Linked DNA regions of Homo sapiens: region 1 is linked to region 2. A link means that fine-mapping ties the variant in region 2 to the expression of a gene that starts in the linked region. Tissue or cell type: cerebellum. Region 2 holds a variant in brackets; the other region holds the start of a gene. All regions are shown on one strand. Distances are between the middles of the regions.

Region 1 (2,685 bases), 71 kb before region 2:
CGTAAATATGTTTCCTTACATGGCAAGGGGGGTTAAAGTTACAGATGAAGTTAAGGTTACTACTTAGCTGACTTTAAAATAGATTATCCTGGATTGTCAGGTAGGTCCCATTAATCCCAGGATCCTTAAATGCATAAGACCCAAAGAAATGCAGCGTGATAAAGATTTGGGCAGCCGTCGGTGGCTTTGAAGATGCAAGGGGTCCCAGAGCCAAGGAATGCAGGAGGCTCTAGAAGCTGGAAAAGGCAAGGAAGGAAATGAGCTCTGCCCTAGAGCCTCCAGAAAGGAAGGCAATCCTTCTGAGACCTTGATCTTAGCCTGCTGAGGCCCATTTGTTCTTCTGACCTCCAAAACCATAAGGTAATAAGTCTCTGCTGTTTCAAGCCACTAAGTGTGGGCATTTGTTATAGCAGCAATAGGAAACCAATACAGGATGTATGTGTGTAAGGCTGGAGAGGGTGGAGGTGGATAAAGGAGACTTTCCAGGGAGGGAGAGCCTCCGCTGTCCTCTCAGAGATGTGGCTTCTGGACCAGAGCCATCTGTACCAGCCTCCCTCTGCAGGGACCGCTTCAGCATCCCCCAGCACCACCTGATACCCCAATACCCTGGAGCACTCACTCCCTCTACTCATCCCAAAGGTCCTCTGCCAGGTGGACAGGCCCCAGGCAATTGGCTCTCAATGTGCCAAAGAGGTAACTGAGGCCTGGGAGAAGCATAGCCAGGAGGAGCACTCCACCTGCCGCAGGAGATGGCCAGACGCCACACCTGAGAACTCACGCTTTCTGGGAGGGCAGCCCGCTCCTTCCACAGATTCCCCACAGCCAAACAGGCCCAGGCAGGCTCCTGTCCACACCTGTGCTGAGAACGCGGCCGCAAAATTGCCAGGGGTCATCATAATTTCTACTCTCCACACCCTCCCGGCCCTGCCTCCCTGTAGGCAGGACCGCAAGCCAAAGCCAGGGCCCACCTGACCACAATCCAGGCCCAGCCAGACCCTTGGAAGCAGAACCTTTGAGCTCCACTGGTGTCCAGGAAGTAGTGTCACAATGGGGTGGGGAGGTCCTTGGGGTGAGCTGGGAATGGTGAGGGTCAGCATTCTACTCCAGGGACACAACTGGCTGTAGCCTCCAGGGGCAAGGCAGGTCAGGAAAACTGCCACACGAACCCCCCTGCCCCTGTCTTTGTGCAGGCTGTTTCCTCCACACGAGGGCTCCACCTCCACTCTCGGAAATTCTCCTGTCCTTCCAGATATCACTCATTTATCAACTATCCTTCAAGCCTTCCTGAGCCCACAGCTGGAAATGGCTTGGCCCTACCCCACTCACTTCTGCTCTGTCTCTCCGTGACACTCCCCTGCCAACCAGCCTTGGTCAGAGCTGCCGGGGTCTGACCCATCTCCCCCATAAGCTAGAAGCCTCCTCTGCCAGATTGCAGGAACAGGGCTTCAAGCTTCATGCTTGGGGGAAGGGAGGCCAAAGTGGCAGGACAGGAAAACCAGCACAGGGCCTAGTACAAGGCAGACCATCCTTGTACCAGTACAGCATGTACTTAGGACCTCAACAAAATTAGAGCATTGCTATGGCTTAATATTTGTCCTCTCCAAAACTCATGTTGAAACTTCATCTCCAGTGTGGTAGCGTGATGGGGCCTTTAAGATGTAATTGGGTCATGAGTGTAATCTGTTAATCCATGAATCACCAATCATGGATTAGTAGATTAATGGGTTAATGAGTTATGAGAATGGGACTGGTGACTTTATAACAAGAGGAAGAAAGACAAGCTAGCTTGCTCGGTTCCCTCACCTGTGCCCCCTTGGGAGACTGCAGAGTTCCCAACAGCAAGAAGGCCCTTACCAGATGTATTCCCTAAACCTTGGACTTCCCAGCCTCCAGAACTGTAAGAAATAAATTTCTTTTCTTTATAAATAACTCAGTTTCAAGCAGTCTGTTATAAGCAACAGAAAATGGACTAACACAGACACTTAAGACACAAAAAAAAATTAAAAGAATTTCATATATTTGAAAAAAAATGAAGTATTGATCACAGGGAAACCTACTTACAGCTCTTTTGCAGTTTCCTATGGCTCAATCTTCACTTGTTTGGGGGCAGGGCACTGCAATCTTATTGGTATCTGGGGCATCAGATCCTTCCTCTTTCACCAGACCTCCCTCGGGGTGTCTGCAGGTCACCTCAGTGGTTGGTCCTAGGCCCCTCATCCCCCCTAGAGTTCCCCACTCTTGAGCAGCAGCACTCTGGGGGTCAAAGGGACCAAGCAGACAGCACAGTGAGCACCCAGAAGCCATCAGTGAGACTGAAGAGCAGGGTGGGAGCACCCCTTTGTTTTGGTTTGTTTTGGTTACATAAGATCCCAGAACTCGGCTGGGCATGGTGGCTCACGCCTGTAATCCCAGCACTTTGGGAGGCTGAGGCAGACGGATCACCTGAGGTCAGGAGTTCAAGACCAGCCTGGCCAACATGGCAAAACCCTGTCTCTACTAAAAATACAAAAATTAGCCTGGCGCAGTGGCGCACACCTGTAATCCCAGTTACTCGGGAAGCTGAGGCAAGAGAATCGCTTGAACCCAGGAGGCAGAAGTTGCGGTGAGCAGAGAATTGCACCACTGCACTCCAGCCTGGGTGACAAACTGAGACTCCTTTTCAAAAAAAAAAAAAAAGATCCCAGA
Region 2 (2,685 bases):
ACAAAATATCCAACATTTCTGTCACAGCCAGCCTCTCTAATGGGAAAAATATTTGGGTAGATACAGAGAGAAAAGTCTGATTTAGAGACCCATTCATCCTACTCAAAACCTCTAAATCCTAGAAGTCAAAGAGGAAACACAGTAGAGACAGAGGAAAATTACTTTACCTAATCCACTAGGCTGACATACAAATCCACTTGAAATCACAAATGGACTTTGAAGATACGAGAAGTAGCAAGACATCCTAAAAATATCTGCCTCTGCTTCCCAATGAAACAACTTTCTCCTAAGCCTAGGTCTCAGTGTATTACAGAGCTGGTTACTGCTAAAGTCTAAGTAATAGTCTCAGACTTGGCTGCATATTAGAATTACCCAGGGAACTTTTAAAAGTCCCAATGCCAAGGCCTCATTCCAAACCAATTAAATAAATTTCTGACAGTGGACCCAGGTATCAAAACTTCTTAAAGCTTCCCATATTCCAATATGCAGCCCAGGCTGAAAGTCTACGATTTAAAGTGTCAGAGAATTCCCATTCCAGCTAAATGGCGAATGCTGCGTTGGAAAACAAACTTTCATCACTACTATACAGGCCCTTGACCCAAAACACACCCTTCCCTTGCTACAAACACAAAGAGATGCTGGATAAATTAGGGGGAAAATACCACACAGCTAGATGCAAAGTAAGGAAAAAATTCTCAAGGTTCAGAAATGAAAGAGACACTTAAGAGGCAGAGCAGTAGGTAAGAAGACCTGGGAGACAGAAGAGGGAAACTGGCCAAATGGCTAGGGGGCTCAGGTTTTCAAATCCACAGGTAATAGAAAACATGGCACTGGGCTGATATAAGGTTAGGAGCTAAAACTAAAACTCCCTAAATAAAACCAAGACCCTTGAAAGACTAGGCCACAATGAAAGATATGCTTACCAAAGGTTAGACAGGATAGCTATATTAAAATAAGATCTTAATTATCTTTATAAAACATTTAAGACCTAATTGTCTTTACAACAAATAAGATCTATCTTTAAAACAAAAACATTTCTAGGAGTAAAAAGGTCACTTTATAGGAGTAAAAAAGTCATTTTATAGGAACAAAAGGAATAATTCACCAGGAAAATAACAATCCTGAACCTGTATGTACCTATAACATCTATCACAGTGTTCAAAGGAGTCATTAGGGTTATAGGGGTTCCTGGGACCGTGCCACAGAGAGCTGGACAGGTTCCAATGCAACCTGATACTTAGAGTCCCGCTCAAAGGATGCTGATTTGCAGGTTAGCTGATATGAAGGACCAGACAGAATGCCCAAGTGAGGTACATACTGTCTAATGCCCAACGAGCCCAAATAGTGCTAGGCCTCCTTTTTGGTGGTGTGGTGAGGGTAGCAGAGGGTCAAAGAGACAGCAGTTTTTCCTCAACTGTCAAAGGGACTAAACATTGTGAATCTGCCCAAATAGTCCCATGAAAGTTTATTTGGCAAGCAGGCCTTTGAATTTTGTTGCATCTATCAACTACCCCTGCTGGCAAAGATGTAATAATAGTGCAAATCAGGGCCACTATCTTGTTAATAAACAGGACATCAAGAGATCA[C/T]CTATACAGGAAAAGCTTTGGACATCAGAAGGTAAAAGAATTTTAAGATTTAATCTTATCCAGTTCAATATGTAATGAGCTTGTCACTTCTGTCTTCACAACAGGAAAAAAGTCTGAAAATCAACAACTCTTCTTAGATCCATCAGAGACTGAGGTCACAGGGCAAACACCTGCCTCCAAAAATGTAGACAGGAAGATAGAATTACAGTTTAATGGAGCAGATGCCCAGCAGCAGAAGACTATTGCTGGAGTCAGTACTGGGGTATAAAAACTTAAATTGTAGTTGACAAATGTCTGGAGGCTCAGTGTGGAACAGCTTGAGAGTTAAAAACCCCAAGCAGACCCAGTCTAAGGGAGACTCATACACTTGGATGAGCTGGATGAGCTTTACCTCCTACAGCCCCATGAGATTCTCGGGGTATAGACAGGAGAAAATTCCCCTAATTTCCCACAGGAGGAAGAAAAAAGTAACCAATTTGAAATATGCCCTAAGCATTCTATTCTCCTAAACAAAAACCTACCCTCAAGGGAAACTATTTTATCAGAGCTTAACCACCTTGGTTTTACCAGAACCTAACCCATCTACGGGAAGGGAAATACCCAGTCTCAGTCCCATCAAGCCTTCCTGTCTCACCTTGGGGGGGAACTGAGAAGCACTTGTGCAGTTGATAGCCCAGGAGCACAGGCTCACTAAAAAGACTGAGCTGGGTAAGGGAGACAAAAATATTGATAGATGTCAGAGGAAAAAGAACACCTTACCTATAGAGGAACAAAGGTATGAATTAACATCCCACATCTCAGAAACCATGCAATCAAGCAGAGTGGAGTGAACTGTTTAAAGTGTCAAGAGGAAAAAAAAAAAACCAACCTAGAATCCTGTATCCAGCAAAATTATCCTTCAAAAGTAAAGAAGTACTTCTCTCAGACAAATAAAAACTGAGGGACTTTGCAGTGAGCAGACCTGCCTTGCAAGAAATGTTAAAAGAACTTCTTGGCCGGGGCACGGTGGCTCACGCCTGTAATCCCAGCACTTTGGGAGGCTGAGGCGGGTGGATCACGAGGTCAGGAGATTGAGACCATCCTGGCTAACGGGTGAAAC

Evidence for each region. PIP is the estimated chance that this variant, and not a neighbour inherited with it, causes the effect.
Region 1: SLC22A14 starts here. The variant in region 2 is fine-mapped to the expression of SLC22A14 in cerebellum (GTEx, PIP 0.95).

What each region holds. Positions count from the first base shown.
Region 1 is chr3:38,280,623-38,283,307 of GRCh38, reverse strand. SLC22A14 (solute carrier family 22 member 14) reads right to left here and starts at 1,014. Exons shown (of 11, transcript NM_001320033.2): 1 at 969-1,014.
Region 2 is chr3:38,209,817-38,212,501 of GRCh38, reverse strand. The region is part of intron 4 of OXSR1 (oxidative stress responsive kinase 1); the gene reads right to left. Among named protein-coding and RNA genes, the nearest start is that of OXSR1, 46 kb to the right of the region's middle. RefSeq lists a silencer at 2,062-2,171. The variant C/T (reference allele first, on the strand shown) is at 1,587.